Linked DNA regions of Homo sapiens: region 2 is linked to region 1. Evidence: fine-mapped expression QTL. A gene starts in region 1. The other region holds a variant in brackets. All regions are shown on one strand. Distances are from middle to middle. Region 1 holds the start of CFAP92 (cilia and flagella associated protein 92 (putative)). Region 2 overlaps CFAP92 (cilia and flagella associated protein 92 (putative)).

Evidence for each region. PIP is the estimated chance that this variant, and not a neighbour inherited with it, causes the effect.
Region 2: its variant is fine-mapped to the expression of CFAP92 in whole blood (INTERVAL, PIP above 0.99).

What each region holds. Positions count from the first base shown.
Region 1 is chr3:128,988,860-128,999,587 of GRCh38, reverse strand. It overlaps CFAP92 (cilia and flagella associated protein 92 (putative)), which reads left to right and starts at 5,512. Exons shown (of 16, transcript NM_001394090.1): 1 at 5,512-5,608; 2 at 6,252-6,545; 3 at 10,670-10,728. The coding sequence starts at 6,284. RefSeq lists a silencer at 5,297-5,506 and an enhancer at 6,083-6,844.
Region 2 is chr3:128,953,735-128,964,462 of GRCh38, reverse strand. All of the region lies in intron 9 of CFAP92 (cilia and flagella associated protein 92 (putative)), which reads left to right. Among named protein-coding and RNA genes, the nearest start is that of CFAP92, 35 kb to the left of the region's middle. RefSeq lists an enhancer at 1-326. The variant A/G (reference allele first, on the strand shown) is at 4,561.

The DNA of each region.
Region 1 (10,728 bases):
CAGCCTGGGCGACAGAGCGAGACTCCGTCTCAAAAAAAAAAAAAAAAAAAAAAAAAGAACCTGATTTTATTTCATGTCAGCCCTAAGAGCTGGTAGCCCAGGCAAGAGTGCAACACCCTCCCCACCCCCCATCCCTGCAGCTGGTGAAGGAATCCTTTGAACAGTAGCTTTCCTGGGCCAGTCAATATTGAAAAGAAAGCTTTTAAATGTCTTGCTGGGAGCCGTTGCCGGCCTCCACTCCCCTACAGCTCAGGGAAGTAAGGGTTGATAATGGTTTGCTGTCAGGCCTGTCTGTCTGCCCTGCGGTGTTACCAGGCACCTCTGAAATAATTCTGGTTGCATCCACAAGGTTTTTGTTTAAGGTTCAAAGTGAGCAAACTCAGAGGTCTCCTTGCGTTCTTTTGTATGAGCTGGGGGGATGGGCGTGTGTCTGTGTGGGAGAGAGTCAGGGCTGTGGCAAAGAAATGATTTTCTGAAGTCAGTTCAGTATTGTTTGAGCCATTTCAAATAGTATATTGTTTAAAGTGTCTTTTAAAGGTCCGGGAAAATGCTAAAAAGCAAAAATCATCCACCATTCTGCCACCAAGAGAGGATCACTGTGTATTTCTGATGTATTTATTTCCAGACTTTTCTATGTATTTGGGCATGAAAGAACTTTTTGGAGTGATTGAAATACTCTATCTTCATGGTGTAGTGGTTGCATGACTGTGTACATCTGAATTTTACAGTGTGCAAATCGTAGCTCATTCAACTTGACATGAAAAGCACAGTGGAAAGGGCGCCATTGGGATCTTTCTTTGCACAGGAACTGAGCTTTGTAAACAGCTTGGCTGTGGTTTCTTTGCAGACACTGCTCCAGAGGCTGCTCTGTGCTCCCTGGGGATGAACTATAAGGTGCTTTGTCATCCCCCACAGATGCCCACTGAGGTGGTTTTCAGCTTTTCTCCGCAAAAACCATACTGTGAACAGTTTGTGCCATATCTTGAGTGATTTATTACTGGGCCAAGGAGTATACATATTTTATAAGCTTGTGGTATTATCAGCCTGTTTTTTGGAAACTTGTGTTGTTCTATCCAGAGCCCAGAACTGTCTGGGAATGTCCTTGGGCCATTATTTTCAGTGTCATAAAGCTTTTGGGTTTTTAGGGGTCTTGGTTAGTAGATTTGCTTAGTGTTCAGACACCAAGCTTTACTTCTATTAAAAATAGGCCTGTTGTTAGTCAAAGATTTCTTAGATACGACACCAAATGCATGATCCAAAAAAGAAAAAAATGATGAATCGGACCTTCATCAAAGTTCAAAACATTTGCACTTCAAAAGACACTATTAAGAAAATATGACGAACAAGAGACTAGGAGAAAATATTTGTAAAACATATGCCCAGTAAAGGACTTATATTCCGAATTTACAATGAACTCTTAACAACTCAGTAACAAGAAGACAAACAATCCAATCAAAAAGTGGGTGAAGATACAAACAGACATTTCACCAAAGAAGTTGTATAAATAGCCAACATGTGCATAAAACAATCTCAGTATTCTTGTTAGGGAAATGCACATGAAAACTATGATGAAATACTATATTATACTCATGAGAATAGCTGTAGTGAATAAAACAGGCAATAAATCTTGTCAAGAATTTGGAGAAACAGGAAACTTCATGTTGTTGATGGGAACACAAAATGATGCAGCCCCTGTGGAAGATAGTTTGGCAGTTTCTCAAGAAGTTAATCACAAAATGACCATACGACCCAACTCTTCCACTCCTAGATATCGACCCAAGAGAGATGAAAACACATCCACACAAAGACTTGTGTGGGAATGTTCATAGCAACGTTGTTCATAAATGTCTAAATGCCCAAGCCAAATGCCCATTAACTGATGAATGGATAGGCAAACTGTGGTCTGTCCATACAATAGAATATTATTCAGTCATGAAAAGGAATGAAATACTGACACATGCCTCAACATAAATAAACCTTGGAAACATAACGGTAGGTGAAAGAAACCAGTCACAAAGCCAGAACACAGTGTCTGACTCAATTTATAGGAAATGTCTAGAAAAGGCCAATTTTTAGAAACAAAGTAGATATGGTTGCCTAGGACTGGGAGTTGGAACAGAGATTAATTATAAATGTGCATGAAGTCTTATTAGGGGGATGAAAATGTTCTAAAATGAATTTATGATGATGATTACAGCACTAGGTAAAGTTACTGAAAATCATTGAATTCTACGCTTGAAATGGATGGATTTTATTAAATAAAAAATACTTCAATAAAGCTGTTAAAAATGGGGAAGGGGCAAGAAGAAGGTGTATGTAGCTGATTCCCAATATGCTTCCAGCTGCCAGAGTCTTGGGATAGCTTCAGGAAGGCCTCTACATAGCCTGTGGGAGCTTGGGAACCCTCCACCCGGCAGAGTAAGGATGAAGGGATGGATTGTTCAGTGACCTTGAACACCTCCTGCCCCTGGATGCTTGTCCCTCTGCTTACCAGATGTACAGTCCATGTCTTCATCCCCTTGAAGTGGGGCCAGCCTCATGACTTGCTTTGGTTAATGGCATGTAGCAGAGTGACATGGTGCTGGTTCCACGCCTAGGTCCCAAGAGGCCTTGCAACTTCTTCTTTGCCCTCTGGGATCCCTGCTCTGAGAATGCCATCTGAGGAAGCCAGGCCGGGCTATGAGGAGATGAGGCACCACATAGAAGGAAGCTGGTGTACCACTGGGGGCGGGGGAACCCATGGAGGGGAACCAGCGGGCCCACGAAGAGCCAGCAGCAACTGCCAGACATGCAAGTGAGGACTTCTGGCAGCTTCCAGCCATGTTGGTCCTCCAGCTGAGCACAGCATAGGGAGTGAGCCCAGGCGAGGCCAGCAGAGAACTACTCAGCTGATGCATGGAGTGGTGAGAAATAACAAGTGTTTGTTTGACACCATTAAGTTTGGGGATGGTTTTTACTCAGTAACAGATAACTGAAACAGAAGCCCCCCTTCCTTTGCTTCTGATCTGCCAGCCCTGAAGCCATCTTCACTGAGGTAGGGTTGTAGACCCACCACTGTCTCATACCTGAGTAGTGGGTAGCACACCTTTGCCCTCACTTCATCCTGTGATGCCCTAGGTCTTGACCCAGACACCATCTCTCTCAGGGCAGTGGTTCCATATTCTGGTTGTGCAATACAATCTTGGTGGTAATTTAAAAATATGGCTCCCGTTCCTATTATTTATTGCACAACAAATCACCCCAAAACTTAGTGGTTTAAGAGAGCAACAATTTGCTTATAAATCTACAATTTCTCATGATGGAGACAGCTTGTTTCTGTTCCTCAATGTCAGCCAGGGTGGCTCAAAGACTGAGGGCTGGGATCATTTGAAGTCTTGCACTCTCATATGTCTGGGGGTTGAGGCTGCAATTGGCTGGGAACCGTCAGTCACAACAGTTTCATGTGGCCATTTCACATGGCTGCTTGGGCTTCCTCACAACATGCTAGCTGGATTCCTAGCATGAATACTATACCTCAAAAGAACAGGGCAGAGGTAGATGGAATTTATATGACCTGGCCTCAGAAATCACATAGTGTCATTTCCTCTGCACTCTTTTGACTGAGCCAGTCACAGAGGTCTGCCCAGTTTCCAGAGAAGGAGACTAGACCCCCCAACTGGGTGGGAGGAATGTGAACCTCACAATGCCTGCCGGAAGATTATGTGGGAGGGGATCTTTTGAGGTGGCTGTCTTTGGAAAATACAATCTGCCACTGGTTTCTAAGCTCCACCCCTGGAGAGTCACTTCCACAGGTCTTTAATGAAGCCTCAGAATTGTATTTTTGACATGTAGGTGTTTCCAGTGCACATCCAGGATGGCACATTGGCCCTTGGTCCAAGACCTCTGGCCTCTCACTATTGAGCTTGGGAAGAGATTGGCTTCTGTCCTAGGTGGTGATGTGATCTAGGAACCTTTGGAGGGAAACCAGCCTCAGGCCAGTGGGTAGGACCTGGGGAGCAGGAGGCCTGATGTCTGTCCAAGAGTGGTGGTAGTGTTGAACTGCCCTTGTTAAAGGGCCCTTTTGGGGGCTGGTGTATCTGAGTAGCTTTGTATTCTTCCAGCCCTTCATGTGTCTCCTGAGCACTTCCTGGCATACAGACAGCAGTCTCCAGGCTGCTGCAGGTGGGGTGTGGGCAAGGTGGTTGCCGTTCTCGTGCTAAGAGTTTGAACCCACTCCTCACAGGGCCCACTGCCATTTGGTGTCTTCCCTAACAGCTGTACTTGAGGCTGTTTTTCAGACTGAACCCGAGGAGTATTGGAGCACCCAGTATTAAAGGGGCTGTCCCATGCCCTGAGAGCGGTCTGGGGAGGCATGCACTGGGAGGCTCAGGACTTGGGTCTCAGCCCCAGCTGCGCCACAGTTTTGCTCTTTGACACAAAGTAGGTCATAGCTCAACTCAGCTAAAGTTTTCTTAATAGCCAAGCTTGTGTGTAGCCTCAGCTCCCATTCTCTTGAACAAACTGACTGCCGGAGCAGGGTGCCCTCCCTCAACAGAAGACCTGCCTTGGCTCCCCATTGCCCATAGTCCTGTGCCCTAACCTGCCCTGTGGGGCTATGTACCATGGGCCCTGCACACTGCTACAGCCTCGCCACCCATTCCTGAAACTTGCCATGCCCTTTCACCTCTATGGGCCTTTGCATATGCTGTTCCTCTACCTGGGATGCTTTCTCTTGCTTTCACCGCCTCTGCCTAGTCACCCCCCAGATTTGGCGTTGCTCACTTCCTCCATGAGGCCTACCCCAGCCCTCTGTCCCAGCCGCTTGCTGTGCTGAGGTCCTCTACATTAGGAGCCGCAGCCAGGGCTCTCAGCTTGGGTGGTTTAGCAGACGAGCGGAGGCTTTGGAGTCAGGCAGTCCGGATTTCAACACAGTGCTGCGCCCTACTTGCTGTGTGACCTCGGGCGAATCGCTTCACCTCTCTAAGCTTTGTTTTCTGATCTCTGAGTTGGCGCTCATGATCACTAACAAGAATTCTCATGCTATTTTAAGGACATCAGCGACAGAAGCAGAGAATCTAATGAGAGGGATCGTGGGGAGGTCTGGTTTTTAAGGACATCGGCGACAGAAGCAGAGAATCTAATGAGAGGGATCGTGGGGAGGTCTGGAGTTTGCAGAGCCCACAGCTTCCTTTGCTTTTATTAAAGAATGGGAGGTGGGAGCTGATGGAGGGGGAGGAAGGAGCCATCAACCCCTACCTCCCATCGTACGGGCAAGGACCAGGCTTATAGTAGGTGCTGACGTTCCGAGTAGAAACTCCTTAATGAGTGAATGCATGAGTGAAGGAATGAAGGCAGCTGGTTTCTGAACCTGGATGTAGCCATTTGACAAACTGCGCGCAGTGGCTGAGGGGGAAAGCCCCGCCCCGCGGAGCCCCGCCCCCAGGCCGCACGCCCTCGCGTCTCCTAGCAACCGCCAAACGTAGCTGAGTGGCTGGGCCTGCGGCCCTCCCTGCACCGGCGGACGCTCCTCTCAGTCTTGGAGTCTCTTCGCCCAGGTGGCTGTGGATCCGGTACGGGAGTTGCCGCCGCGGTCCAACTCCCCGCTGCCGCCCAGCGCATCCGCTCGCAGGTACCGCCAGCACCTGGAGGGGAACCCCGACCCCTGCCCCCACCTCGGCCGCCGCAGCCCGGGACTCTTCCCGCCTCGCCTCGATGCGTGTTCCCTCTTCGGCGTTTGCCCGGCGTTCCGCCTCCATGGGCCTGAGCTGATGCCCCGAGCCCAGCACCCAGTGCACATTCATGTTCTGTCTTGGGGACAGGGCTTGCCCTCCCCGACCTCGCCAGGCTCCTGCACGTGCTGCCCCCGGCCTGGTTTGCCTCTCCCCAAATAGCAAACGCATCTTGTGCTTAGGCGCAGCAGGCCTGCCTGAGCAGACGTCCCCTCTCCCGCCTGGTGGCTCCCGGGAGCTGCTCACCTGGGGCAGGCATTCCAGAAGCCCGGCGACTGACTCCTGGTTAGGCGAAGGAAACGGGGTTGCTCGTCGTCGTGCTTACTGCCAGCCACCCTTATCTGTTGTTCCTTCATCCATTCATTCTCTAAGTCGATTGAGTACCGACTGTGTGGCAGGCAGTGAAGGAGCCCCGGCGTTCATCTAGGAGCAGGCGGGGGAAGCAGGGAAGAGAAGGGTGGGTGCTTCTGCAGGAGGCCGGGCTTACCTCCTGGAGCAGCCCTGGAATACAGGCGGGGACAGCCTTCACTTTCTCCCTGCCAGGAGCGCCGGCGGCCAGCAGTGCGCTCTGCAGCATGTCGCTACATGCCTGGGAGTGGGAAGAGGACCCCGCAAGCATAGAGCCCATCTCCTCCATCACTAGCTTTTACCAGTCCACGAGCGAGTGTGACGTGGAGGAACACCTGAAGGCCAAGGCCAGGGCCCAGGAGTCTGACTCTGACCGCCCGTGCAGCAGCATCGAGTCCTCATCTGAGCCTGCCAGCACTTTCAGCTCCGACGTGCCCCACGTGGTCCCCTGCAAATTCACCATCTCACTGGCCTTCCCTGTGAATATGGGTAGGTGCTAGAGCAGAAGTTTAACACCCTCTGAAAAAAGGAGGTGCATGACTTTCTGCAGGAGTTTAGGGCGCATACACCCCACATCCTCTCTCCACCTGCCCCACCCCAAAGCGGGCTGGCCAGTGCCAGCCAGGAGCAGAGGTTGAAAAGAAACAGCAATTTTAGGAGAGGCCCAACTGTGGCTGCATCAGCTTCACATACTTAATCCTCTCAACAACCCTAAAGCAGGTGATGTTCTGTCTGCTTTTTACAGAAGAAAAAAAAACCATGGAGAGGTTAAGGCATTGATTCTCATAAGCGCTTGTGCATCACCTAATACCTTGTTTAAAATACATTTTCCGGGAGTCTGAGGCAGGAGAGTCTCTTGAACCCCGGAGGTGGAGGTTGTGGTGAGCAGAGATCACGCCATTGCACTCCAGCCTGGGCAACAAGAGCAAAACTCTGTCAAAAAAAAAAAAAATAATAATTCTTTTTTTATTGAGATGGAGTCTTGCTCTGTCACCAGGCTGGAGTGCAGTGGTGCGATCTCAGCTCACTGCAACCTCAGCCTTCCGGGTTCAAGCAATTCTCGTGCCTCAGCCTCCCAAGTAGCTGGGATTACAGGTGCACGCCACCACACCCATCTAATTTTTGTATTTTTAGTAGAGACTGGGTTTCACCATGTTGGCCAGAATGGTCTCGAACCCCTGACCTCAGGTCATCCTCCTGCCTCAGCCTCCCAAAGTGCTGGGATTACAGGCATGAGCCACCGCACCCGGCCAAAAAATACATTTTCTCTGATCTGTTGAATCAATCTCTGAATGTAAAGGTGTATCAATTAGCTATTGCCACAAAAATGCGGTGCAACAAACCCAAACAAGCCCCCAAGCTCATGGCTGCACACAGGAACCTGAGGTTCTCCTGGAGGTGCTGGGCGCTGGTCTAGGCTGGGTTCTGCAACAGCTCAGCTCTGCTTCATGCTGCTCCTTTTCCTCCTGGACCAGTGGGCTATCCTAGACCCCTTCTTGTTCTAGAAACACGGACACACAGGAGGGCAAGCCTAGCCCCACAAACACTCCTCAAGTCTTTGAGTGTCTCCCACCTGCTAGCATTTTATTGGCCAAACCAAGTCACATGGTTCCAGCCCAATATGAGGGGAGGAGACAAGTAGTACTTCACATCTTGATAGACCTTGCTTTGTTTTGTTTTCATCTGCTTACTTGAACTAGCCCACCATTATGATTTCAACTTCTCCTGGTATTCTGTCGATGGTGTAAGTTTCTTGTATGGGTTGGAACCCCGAGAGCGCACCAACAGACAACACGAGGCGGTGTGGAGCAACATGCTGTTTCAATGAACGCCTTGGTGCAGGCCGGCTGAGGCCTAAAATGGCGTCAGCCCCAAGTGAGGACGGGGCAAAGGTTTTATAGTCTCCTGTAAACAGGAAGTGTCCTAGTCTGGCGTAACTGCTACGCTGTACCCGGATGGCCTCTTTCTCATCTTCATGTCTTCCGGCCAGGGTAGGTGTATTCCAGCCGGCTCTCCTCCTGCTTCTGCTATTTTGCTGGTGCACGCTGCTGACGTAAGTGACCTTACGCCTTGGGACTAGGCTTGAGAAGGGAGGAGTTATTCATCTCCTTAAGCTTTCAGGCCCTGGGGAGAGTCTTACAGATGGTTGCTTCAGCTATTTTGGAGGCCGACTGGTTGGGTGTATAGTATGTTTAGAACTGCTCCATCTTCTTGGTGAACTGAACTTTTTGTCATTTTATGGTGACCATTCCTGTCTAAAATGATGCCTTTACTCTTGGGTCTATTGCTATAAAGCAAAAGAGCCTGGAAAAAGACATCTGGCAAATACCAACCAAAAGAAAATTGGCACTTGACCTCCTTTAGCCCTCATCTCTTTCACAGCATCTTCTAAGCATGTTTTTGTTTTTGTTGTTGTTGTCCTCTAAAGGCATTTATAAAATGGATCTCTGTGGGGCAAAACTTCATGAGACCTTGTGTGCCTAAGAGTATTTTTTTATCATGCCAATACCTTTAAATGACATACCTTCGGCTCTACATAAAATTCTAGTTTAATTTTTTTTTCCTTCAATACCTGAGTATTTACAGATGAGTACATAAATGTTTCTTTATATAAATTATTTATTTATTTATTTTTGAGACGGAGTCTTGCTCTGTTGCCTAGACTGGAGTTCAGTGGCACAATCTCGGCTCACTGCAACCTCCACCTCCCAGGTTCAAGCAATTCTCCTGTCTCAGCTTCCCAAAGTAGCTGGGACCACAGGCACATGCCACCACGCCCAGCTAATTTTTGTATTTTTAGTAGAGATGGGGTTTCACCATATTGGTCAGGCCGGTCTTGAACTCCTGACCTTAGGTGATCCACCCGCCTTGGCTTTCCAAAACGCTGGAATTACAGACGTGAACCACCACGCCCGACCTATAAATTGTTTATTTCAGAGAAATGAGATCCTACAACTTACTTTAAAATGTTTTGACATGATTTAGATTATCTTTGAGAATATGATCAAGGATACTTGTTTTTGTTTGTTTGTTTTTAGACAGAGTCTCTCTCTGTCACCCAGGCTGGAGTACAGTGGCGCGATCTTGGCTCACTGCAACCTCCGCCTCCTGGGTTCAAGCGATTCTCCTGCCTCAGCCTCCCAAGCAGCTGGAACTACAGGCACATGCCACCATGCCCAGCTAATTTTTGTATTTTTAGTAGAGACGGGGTTTCGCCATGTTGGCCAGGCTGGTCTGGAACTCCTGACCTCAGATCATCCTCCTGCCTGGGCCTCCCAAAGTGCTAGGATTACAGGCATGAGCCACTTTGCCTGGGCAAGGATACTTGTTTTAATTTTGTTGTTTCATTTTAAACACCTATATATTAACAGTATTCCATTATATGTCTCTAATTTATCCTACCCCTTATTGGTGGATATTTGAGTTGTTTCAAATGTTTTTCTGTTGCAATTCTGCGATAGACATTCTTTACGTCCATTTTTGTGCATATATGTGGGCACTTCTGTTGCCTGTATTCCAAGAAGTAAATTTGCTGGATTGAAGGCATGTATTAATAGTTTTTGATAGATATTGTCAACTTCCCCTTTAAAAGGGCTAAATAACTTGCCTTTCTGTCTACAGAAAATGAGAGGCTCTGTTTGTCCACTTGCTGGCCCACCTGGGATTGAATCAGAAAAGGTCTAATGCTACCAGAGACTGGCAGGAGAAGCTTCACTCCAATCTCTGCACAAATGCTAACTATTTTGGTAGCAGAAAAATTAATGCTGCAGCAGTCTCCTGGGGTTAAAAATTTAGACTTTAAAAACTACAGCTTTAAAGACAGTCATGTTTTTATAGAATGATATTTGGATTAAATGTTTATGGAGCTTCTTATGATGTGAAAAGCCCCAACCTAGAGTGTGCAGTTTAAGCTGGAGTGTAAGCAACCAGGGGTGGGGTCAGGGGGCTCCTTGGGCTCTGGACTCTGGCAGAAGCCCATCTGTACCTTCCACATCCTGTCACCCTATCCACCCCGCATTGGGTAGCTTCACCCATGACATTTTTGTGAAGCTGCTTTCTCTGTCTGTCTGGAATATCTGCCAGCTTTGCTCCTCTAAGACTCTGCTAAGGTCCCCCTGGGAGGCCCACCCCACCCTCCCCATGCAGAGTTTTCTCCTCCACCTTCGTTCTTCACAACCTTGTTCCTGCTGCTATTATTGCACAAATCACATTGTACTGTGATTTTTTTTTTTTTTTTTTTTTACCTGCTTCTTAGGGCCAGGAGGGACCAGGGTAAGGCAAGTATGGCGTCTCTCCTAATAACATCTGGCCTGGCCATGTGATTTCACTTTAACTCTATCACCTTTTTAACCCTAGGCCTACTAACCAACACTCACTCTCCAACTGAGACACTCACTCTGAAAACCATGCACCTAAATTTTGCACTCAGGTGCCCAGTCCAGGTCGTGCTACTCTGCTGGCTAGGAGCACTGGACCTGTACCTCCTTCCCCAAGTCGGGCAGGCAATGTGGAGTGCTCAGCCTCTCACAACATCAAGCTCCAGGGAACTGGGGAGACGGGTCTGCTTTTCCACATGAGGTTAAAACGAGACTTTTTCAATCTGTATCTTCAAGGTCAGAAGGGAAAATATGCAAGTTTGATTGAAAAATATAAGAAACACCCTAAAACAGAC
Region 2 (10,728 bases), 35 kb after region 1:
AGAGCAGGGCACGTATGAGTAGTTGAGAACGGTGAATAGGAGTATGACTAGACAAAAGATAGTAGGGATGACAAGTTTTTTGGGGGCACAGTCTCAGTTGGTCTGGTGTCAAATGAGACTGGGGCCTAATAAAAAGGAGCATCTACACAGGAGCTTAAATGGGCTGTACCTTGTAGAAGCGAAAGTGGTAAAAGTATTGTCCAGTCCTTTTTAAGTTGGTGGCTGAGCTTGGTGAGCTGTGTTTTTAAAAGACCTTTAGTCCGTTCTACTTTTCTTGAAGACGGAGGACCGTAAGGGATATAAAGGTTTCACTGAAACCTACTAAGAGCCTGAAAAACTGCTTGGCTGATTTGACTAATAAAGGCTGGTCTATTATCAGACTGTATAGAGGTGGGAAGGCTAAACTGAGGAATTATGTCTGACAGAAGGGAAGAAATGACTGCGGTGGCCTTCTCAGACCCTGTAGGAAAGGCCTTTACTTATTCAGTGAAAGTGTCTATTTGAACTAAGAGGTATTTTAGTTTCCTGACTCGGGCATGTTGAGTAAAGCTAATTTGCCAGTCCTGGGTGGGGGCAAATCCTCGAGCTTGATGTGTAGGGAAGGGAGGGGGCCTGAATAATCCCTGAGGAGTAGTAGAATAGCAGATGGAACACTGAGAAGTTATTTCCTTGAGGATAGATTTCCAGGATGGAAAGGAAATGAGAGGTTCTGAGAGGCGGGCTAGTGGCTTGTACTATAGCATAGCCTGCCTTTGCTGGTGTGTGGCGATTAGGCCTGGTGGAACTGCCGTCAATAAATCAAGCGTGATCAGGGTGAGGAACAGGAAAGAAGGAAATATGGGGAAATGGGGTGAATATCAGGTGGATCAGAGAGATACAGTCATGGGGGTCAGGTGTGGTATCAGGAATAATGTGGGAGGCCAGATTGAAGTCCGGGCCAGGAACGATGGTAATTGTGAGACTTAAAGAGTGAGTACAGCTGAAGGAGCCGGGGAGCAGAAAGTATATGCGTCAGGTATGAGGAAGAAAATAGATTTTGGGAAATGTAGAGAGTGAGTTGAGCATAGTTTGTGACTTTTAGGGCCTCTAACAGTATTAAAGCAGCGGCAGCCGCTGCACGCAGACATGAGGGCTAGGCTAAAACAGTAAGGTCAAGTTGTTTGGACAGAAAGGCTACACGGTGTGGTCCTGGCTCTTGTTTAAGAATTCTGACCGCACTAAGCATGCCTAGGAAGGAAAGGAGTTGTTCTTTTGTAAGGGATTGAGGTTTGGGAGATTAATCAGACACGATCAGCAGGGAGAGCACATGTGTTTTTATGAGAATTATGCCAAGATAGGTAACAGATGAGGACGAAATTTGGGCTTGACTGAAGTAATGGGGGCTGTCTGTGAAGCCTTGCGGCAGTACAGCCCAGGTAATTTGCTGAGCCTAATGGGTGTCAGGGTCAGTCTAAGTGAAGGCAAAGAGAGGCTGGGATGACGGGTGCAAAGGAATAGTAAAGAAAGCATGTTTGAGATCCAGAACAGAATAATGGGTAGTAGAGGAAGGTATTGAGGATAGGAGAGTATATGGGTTTGGCACCACGGGGTGGATAGGCAAAACAATTTGGTTGATAAGGCGCAGATTCTGAACTAACTTGTAAGCCTTGTCTGGTTTTAGGACAGGTAAAATGGGGGAATGGTAAGGAGAGTTTATAGGTTTTAGAAGCCCGTGCTGTAGCAGGCGAGTGATCACAGGCTTTAATCCTTTTAAATCGTGCTGTGGGATAGGATATTGGCATTGAGCGGGGTAAGGATGATTAGGTTTTAATGAGATGGTAAGGGGTGCGTGATCAGTTGCCAAGGAGGGAGTAGAGGTCTCTTATACTTGTGGGTTAAGGTGGGGGAATACAAGAGGAGGACGCAAAGGAGGCTTTGGATTGGGAAGAAGGGCAGCAATGAGATGCAGCTGTAGTCCAGGAATAGTCAGGGAAGCAGATAATTTGGTTAAAATATCTCGGTCTAATAAGGGAACTGGGCAGGTGGGGATAACTAAAAAAGAGTGCATAAAAGAGTATTGTCTAAGTTGGCACCAGAGTTGGGGAGTTTTAAGAGGTTTAGAAGCCTGTCTGTCAATACCCACAACAGTTATGGAGGCAAGGGAAACAGGCCCTTGAAAAGAAGGTAATGTGGAGTGGGTAGCCTCCGTATTGCTTAAGAAGGGGACGGGCTTACCTTCCGCTGTGAGAGTTACCGGAAGCTCGGCGTCCGTGATGGTCTATGGGGCTTCCGAGGCGATCGGGCAGCATCAGTCTTCAGCCGCTAAGCCGAGAAGGAGTCAGTCAGAGAGCCTCGGGCCAGAGTTCCAGGGGCTCTGGGAGTGGCTGCCAGGTGAGTTGAACAGTCCAATTTCCAGTGGGGTCCCGCACAGATGGGACACGGCTTAGGAGGAATCCTGGGCTGCGGGCATTCCTTGGCCTGGTGGTCAGATTTCTGGCACTTGTAGCAAGCTCCTGGGGGAGGAGGTTCTGGAGGAACACCTGGCCACTGCGGTTCAGGCGTTTGGAAGTTCTTGTGTGCTGGAGATGTGGCTGGGATTTGTCTCACAGTGGAGGCAAGGAATTGCAACTTTTTCCTATTATTGTACACCTTGAAGGAGAGGTTAATTCAATCCTGTTGTGGGGTTTGAGGGCCGGAATTTAATTTTTGGAGTTTTATTTAATGTCGGGAGCAGATTGGGTAATAAAATGTATATTGAGAATAAGACAGCCTTTTGACCTTTTAGGGTCTAGGGCTGTAAAGCGTCTCAGGGTTGCTGCCATGAACTGGGTTGGGTTTTTATATTTGATGAAAAAGAGCCTAAACGCTATCTGATTTGGGATAAAGAAAAAGGAGCATTAACCTTGACTATGCCTTCAGCTCCAGCCACCTTTTTAAGAGTAAATTGCTGGGCAGGTGGGGGAGGGCTAGTCACGGAATGAAAACCATAAGCAGGACCAGGTGTGAGGAGGGGAGGTGATAAAAGGATTATAGGGTGGAGGAGCGGAGGCTGAGGAAGAATTGGGACCTAGCTCGGCCTGGTGAGGAGGGGAGAGGTCAGATGGGTCTGTAGAAAAGGAAGATTAGAAAGAGTCAGTGATGCTTGGGGTTGGGACTGAGGGGACAGGCGGGAGGGAAAGAAGGAAGATTTGGGAGGAGTTGCCCTGGGCACAGCGACTAGGAAGGGACTGATGTGTAAAAGAATGCCGGGACGTCAGGCACCTCAGACCGTTTGCCTATTTTACGACAAGAATTATTTAGATCTTGCAGGATGGAAAAATTTAAAGTGCCATTTTCTGGCTATTTGGAACTACTGTTGAGTTTGTATTGGGGTCAAGCGGCATTGCAGAAGAAAATAAGGCATTTAGGTTTTAGGTCAGGTGTGAGTTGAAGAGGTTTTAAGTTCTTGAGCACACAGGCTAAGGGAGAAGGAGGAGGAATGGAGGGTGGAAGGTTGCCCATAGTGAAGGAAGCAAACCCAGAGAAAAGAGAGCATAGAGACCCGGAGGGAAGGGGTTTGGGGGTTCTTGCCCCCTAGAAAAGCGGGACTTGCCGCTAAGGGTGAAGGAGAAGGGGTTGAGGGGTACTTGCCCCTGCCCCAGGAAAGTGGGACTTGCCGCTGAGGGTGAAGGAGAAGGGGTTGAGGGGTACTTGCCCCTGCCCCAGGAAAGCGGGACTTGCCGCTGAGGGTGAAGGAGAAGGGGTTCACGGGTACTTGCCCCTTCCCCAGAAAAGCGGGACTAGCCGCTAAGGGTGAAGGACCAAGGCAGGCGTCCCTGCGTGGTCTGACACCCTTGAAACGTGGGTGTATAATCAGAGAGCGTCCCTGCAATGATTAAACACCAAGGGAAGGCTGCCTTCCCAGTCCGTGACCGGCGCCGGAGTTTTGGGTCCACGGATAAAACGTGTCTCTTTTGTCTCTACCAGAAAATGAAAGGAATTGAAATTAAGGGAGAGATTGAAGTGTGGCACCAAGATTGAAAGGAGAAAGAGGTTGAGGGATAGTGAGGGAGGTTGGAGAAGAGAGTCAAAAGAGGCCGCTTACCGGATTTGAAATTGGTGAGATGTTTCTTGGGCTGGTCGGTCTGAGGACCTGAGGTCATAGAGGTGGATCTTTCTCACGGAGCAAAGAGCAGGAGGACGGGGGATTGATCTCCCAAGGGAGGTCCCCCGATCCGAGTCACGGCACCACATTTCATGCGCGTCCGTGTGAAGAGACCACCAAACAGGCTTTGTGTGAGCAACATGGCTGTTTATTTCACCTGGGTGCAGGCGGGCTGAGTCCGAAAAGAGAGTCAGCGAAGGGAGTGGGGCCGTTTTATAGGATTTGGGAAGGTAATGGAAAATTACAGTCAAAGGGGGTTGTTCTCTGGTGGGCAGGGGTGGATCTCACAAAATACATTCTCAAGAGTGGGGAGAATTACAAAGAACCTTCTTAAGGGTGGGGGAGACTACAAAGTACATTGATCAGTTAGGGTGGGGCGGGAACAAATCACAATGGTGGAATGTCATCAGTTAAGGCTGTTTTTATTTCTTTTGTGG[A/G]TCTTCAGTTACTTCAGGCCATCTGGATGTATACGTGCAAGTCACAGGGGATGTGATGGCCTGGCCTGGGCTCAGAGGCCTGACAGTTATCACCTGTATTTTACCATTTAGGATCCCACAGTGAGATACAAAAGAGATGGGGTTCCTGGGATTAGGTGTGACCAGTCCTGAGGTCTCCTACTATGCCGCAGGTGCTCTTCACATGCAGGTCATGAACCTCCCTTCAGGAGCCCCCAGGCTTCCCTCTTCCTGTGGCAGTTGCCAGCGGGATGCTCACTCATTGTGAACCAACCAGGTTCAGCACTGCTGTTTATTCTGTGAGTTCCTTGTTCCCTCTTCTGGTTGGATCCCTGTCTCCTGAATTCTCTCCCTTTATTTGCTGTCTGGTTTTGCTGGAGTGCATCCTCTAGTAGCTTCTCGAGAAAAGGTCAATGGGAGATTTATTTTTGAGATCTCATATGTCTGCAGATATATTTTTTTCTACCTTTTTTTATCCTTACACATGACTGGTAGTTTGGCTGCATATAGAATTCTAGGCTAAAAATCATTTGCCTTCAGAGTTTTGAAGGCATTGTTCCATCATCTTTTATTTTCATTGAAGTTGAACCTTTGTATGCGAACTGTTTTTTGTTTCTCCAAATGCTTATAAAATCCTTTTTGTCGTCTTTTTTATTTTATTTATTTATTTATTTGAGGCAGAATTTTGCTCTTGTTGCCCAGGCTGGAGTGCAGGGGTGCAATCTCAGCTCACCACAACCTCCACCTCCTGGGTTCAAGCGATTCTTCTGCCTCAGCCTCCCGAGTAGCTGGGATTACAGGCATTTGCCACCACGCCCGGCTAATTTTGTATTTTTAGTAGAGACAGGGTTTCTCCATGTTGGTCAATCTGGTCTCAAACTCCTGACCTCAGGTGATCCACCTGCCTTGGCCTCCCAAAGTGTTGGGATTACAGGTGTCAGCCACTGCGTCCAACCTTGTCTCCTTTTTTAAAAAAATTTTTTTGAGACAGGGTCTCACTCCACTGCCCTGTCTGGAGTGCAGTGGTGTGATCATAACTTACTGCAGCCTCAACCTCCTGGGCTCAGGTGATCCTCCTGCCTTAGCCTCCCTAGTAGCTGAGACTGCAGGCACACGCCACCACACCCAGCTAGTTTTTGTATTTTTTGTAGAGACAGGGTTTTGCCATGTTGCGCAGGCTGGTCCTGAACTCCTGGGATCAAGTGATCCTCCTGCCGTGGCCTCCCAAAGTGCTAGGATTATAGGTGTAAGCCACAGTGCCAGCCCTTTTTGTCTTCTGAAACTGCTTGTGTGTCTTAGTGTGAGTATGTCCATATACATATGTCATACTTTAAAATATAGATTCACGGAAAGTTGCAAAGACAGTACAGAGAGGTCCCATGTATCCTTTGTCCAATTTCCTCAGTAATTAGGTGTTTCATAACTATAGCACAATATCAAAATCAGCACATTGACATGAGTCTAATGTGTATATAGGTCTGTGCCATTTTATTGTACATGTATGTAACTGTCACAGCACTTGAGATGTAGAAATATTCTATCATCACAAAGATCTCCTTCGTGCTACCCTTTTATAGTCACAACAACCCCTAACACCCACCATCCCTAACCACTAATTTGCTATCTCTATACTTTTGTCAATTTGAAAATGTTATTGTTAAGGATTGAATTGTGTTCCTCCAAAAAATGGTATGTTGAACTCCTAACGCCCAGTATCTCAGAATGTGATCTTATTTGGAAAGAGGGTCTTTGCAGAGGTAGTCAAGTTGAAATGAGGTCATTAGGGTATCCTTATGAAAGGGGGAAAATTGGACCCAGAGACAGACACACGTAGAGGGAAGACTATGCAAAGTGACACACAGAGAACGCCACATGGAAAGTGGATGCTGCCACATGCCAGGGGACATCTGGGGCCACCAGAAGCTGGAAGAGGCAAGGAAGGACCTTCCTGAGCACCTTCTGAGGAAATGTGGCCCTGCCAACAGCTTAATTTCTGACTTCTAGCCTCAGAACAGGGAGACAATAAATTTCTGTCATTTTAAGCCCCCCCCCAGTTTATGGCGCTTCGTAGGAAACTGGTGTGGTTATATAAATGAAAACATCCAGCATGTGACCTTTTGAGACTGGCCTTCTCCCCCACTCCAGGATAATGGCCTTGCATGTAGTTTGGTCATGTTTCTTTATTTACTCTGCCTTTTAATTGACGTATTTAGACCATTATATTTAGAGTAAATGTTGATATATTAGAGCTTAAGTCTACCATTTTAATTTTTGTTTTCTGTCTGTTCCTTCTGTTTTTTTGTTTCTCTTGGTTTTTATTCCTGCTTTCTTGTGGGTTACTTGACCCATTTTTAGAATTCCATTTTGATTTATCTGTAGTATTTTTGAATTTATATCTCTTGGTATAGATTTTTAGTGGCACTCTGGATATTATATTTAACGCATAACATAACTTTTCGCAATCTCTTGGTATCAATATTTTACCAGTTTGAGTGAAATATAGAAACTTTACCTCCCTCCATACCCCTTTAGTTTCCCTAAATATTTCCTCTACATAGATTGATAACCACATGAGATGATGTTATACTTTTTGCTTCAACTGTCAAACATAACACATAACCTAGAAAACTCAAGGGTTGAAGGAAAGTGTATTTGTTTACCCGTGGTTCTACTTATTCCATTATCCTTTCTTCCTTTCTAATGTTCCAAGACTTCTTTTGTCATTTCCTTTCTGTTTCAAGAACTTCCTTTCGCCTTTCTTCTAGGATAAATCTGCTGAAAACAAATTCTTTTAGTTGTTCTTTGTCTCAGGGTGTTTTTATTTTTCCTTCATTCTGGAAGGATAGTCTTACTGGATATAGAATTGGTATAGAATGGGGTTGATTTCTTTTTTTTTTTTTTTTTTTTGAGAGAGTCTGGCTCTGTCACCCAGGCTGGAGTGTAGTGGCATGATGTTGGCTCACTGCAACGTCTGCCTCCTGGGTTCAAGTGATTCTCCTGCCTCAGCCTCCTGAGTAGCTGGGATTATGAGCATGCACCACCATGCCTGGCTAATTTTTGTATTTTTAGTAGAGACAGAATTTCACCATGTTAGCCAGGCTAGTGTCAAACTCCTGACCTCAGGTGATGCACGCACCTCGGCCTCCCAAAGTGCTGGGGTTACAGGTGTGAGCCACTGTGCCTGGCTGGATTTTTTTTTTTAACACTTGAAAAATGTTATACCACTTTCTTCTTACCACTACAGTTTCTGATGGGAAATCTGCTGTCATTCAAATTACTTTTTTTTCCCTATAAGTAAGGTGGCATTTATCTCTTGCAGCTTTCAAGATTTTCTTTCTTTGTCATTAATTTACAGAAGTTTGACTATGACATGTCTTGGTGTGGATTTCTTTGTGTTTATCTTATTTGGGGTTCTCTCAGCTCTTTGAATCTATAGGCTTATGTATTTTGCCAAATTTGAGAAAATTTTAGCCATTATTTATTGGAATACTTTTCAGCACCACCTTTTTTCTCCTCTCCTTCTGAAACTCCAATGACATGAATATTAGTTCTTTTGTTTTAGTCCCACAGGGCCCTGAAGTTCTGATTTTGATTTTTGTGTCTTTTTTCCCCTGTGTTGTTCAGATTGGGTAATTTCTTTTTTTCTTTCTATTTTCTTTTTTTTTTTTTATTTTTTTATTTTTTTTTTATTTTTTTTTTTAATTTATTTTTTTATTGATAATTCTTGGGTGTTTCTCACAGAGGGGGATTTGGCAGGGTCATGGGACAATAGTGGAGGGAAGGTCAGCAGATAAACAAGTGAACAAAGGTCTCTGGTTTTCCTAGGCAGAGGACCCTGCGGCCTTCCGCAGTGTTTGTGTCCCTGATTACTTGAGATTAGGGATTGGTGATGACTCTTAACGAGCATGCTGCCTTCAAGCATCTGTTTAACAAAGCACATCTTGCACCGCCCTTAATCCATTTAACCCTGAGTGGACACAGCACATGTTTCAGAGAGCACAGGGTTGGGGGTAAGGTCACAGATCAACAGGATCCCAAGGCAGAGGAATTTTTCTTAGTGCAGAACAAAATGAAAAGTCTCCCATGTCTACTTCTTTCTACACAGACACGGCAACCATCCGATTTCTCAATCTTTTCCCCACCTTTCCCGCCTTTCTATTCCACAAAGCCGCCATTGTCATCCTGGCCCGTTCTCAATGAGCTGTTGGGCACACCTCCCAGACGGGGTGGTGGCTGGGCAGAGGGGCTCCTCACTTCCCAGTAGGGGCGGCCGGGCAGAGGCGCCCCTCACCTCCTGGGCGGGGCGGCTGGCCGGGCGGGGGGCTGACCCCCCCACCTCCCTCCCGGATGGGGCGGCTGGCCGGTCGGGGGGCTGACCCCCCCACCTCCCTCCCGGACGGGGCGGCTGGCCAGGCAGAGGGGCTCCTCACTTCCCAGTAGGGGCGGCCGGGCAGAGGCGCCCCTCACCTCCCGGACGGGGCGGCTGGCCGGGCAGGGGGGCTGACCCCCCCCCACCTCCCTCCCGGACGGGGCGGCTGGCCGGGCGGGGGGGCTGACCCCCCCACCTCCCTCGCGGACGGGGCAGCTGGCCGGGCAGAGGGGCTCCTCACTTCCCAGTAGGGGCGGCCGGGCAGAGGCGCCCCTCACCTCCCGGACGGGGCGGCTGGCCGGGCAGGGGGGCTGACCCCCCCCACCTCCCTCCCGGACGGGGCGGCTGGCCGGGCAGGGGGGCTGACCCCCCCCACCTCCCTCCCGGACGGGGCGGCTGGCCGGGCGGGGGGCTGACCCCCCCACCTCCCTCGCGGACGGGGCGGCTGGCCGGGCAGAGGGGCTCCTCACTTCCCAGTAGGGGTGGCCGGGCAGAGGCGCCCCTCACCTCCCGGACGGGGCGGCTGGCCGGGCAGGGGGGCTGACCGCCCCACCTCCCTCCCGGACGGGGCGGCTGGCCGGGCGGGGGGCCGACACCCCCACCTCCCTCCCGGACGGGGCGGCTGGCCGGGCGGGGGGCCGACCCCCCCACCTCCCTCCCGGACGGGGCGGCTGGCCGGGCAGAGGGGCTCCTCTCTTCCCAGTAGGGGCGGCCGGGCAGAGGCGCCCCTCACCTCCCAGACGGGGCGGCTGGCCGGGCGGAGGGCTGACCCCCCCACCTCCCTCCCGGACGGGGCGGCTGGCCGGGCAGAGGGGCTCCTCACTTCCCAGTAGGGGCGGCCGGGCAGAGGCGCCCCTCACCTCCCGGACCGGGCGGCTGGCCGGGCGGGGGGCTGACCCCCCCACCTCCCTCCCGGATGGCACGGCTGGCCGGGCGGGGGGCTGACCCCCCACCTCCCTCCCGGATGGGGCGGCTGGCCGGGCGGGGGGCTGACCCCCCCTCACCTCCCTCCCGGACAGGGTGGCTGCCGGGCGGAGATGCTCCTCACTTCCCAGATGGGGTGGCTGCTGGGCGGAGAGGCTCCTCACTTCTCAGACGGGGCAGCTGCCGGGCGGAGGGGCTCCTCACTTCTCAGACGGGGTGGTTGCCAGGCAGAGGGTCTCCTCACTTCTCAGACGGGGCGGCCGGGCAGAGACGCTCCTCACCTCCCAGACGGGGTCTCGGCCGGGCAGAGGCGCTCCTCACATCCCAGATGGGGCGGTGGGGCAGAGGCGCTCCCCACATCTCAGACGATGGGCGGCCGGGCAGAGACGCTCCTCACTTCCTAGATGTGATGGCGGCTGGGAAGAGGCGCTCCTCACTTCCTAGATGGGATGGCGGCCGGGCGGAGACGCTCCTCACTTCCCAGACTGGGCGGCCGGGCAGAGGGGCTCCTCACATCCCAGACGATGGGCGGCCAGGCAGAGACACTCCTCACTTCCCAGACGGGGTGGCGGCCGGGCAGAGGCTGCAATCTCGGCACTTTGGGAGGCCAAGGCAGGCGGCTGGGAGGTGGAGGTTGTAGTGAGCCGAGATCACGCCACTGCACTCCAGCCTGGGCACCATTGAGCACTGAGTGAACGAGACTCCGTCTGCAATCCCGGCACCTCGGGAGGCCGAGGGTGGCGGATCACTCGCGGTTAGGGGCTGGAGACCGGCCCGGCCAACACAGCGAAACCCCGTCTCCACCAAAACCAGTCAGGCGTGGTGGCGCGTGCCTGCAATCGCAGGCACTCGGCAGG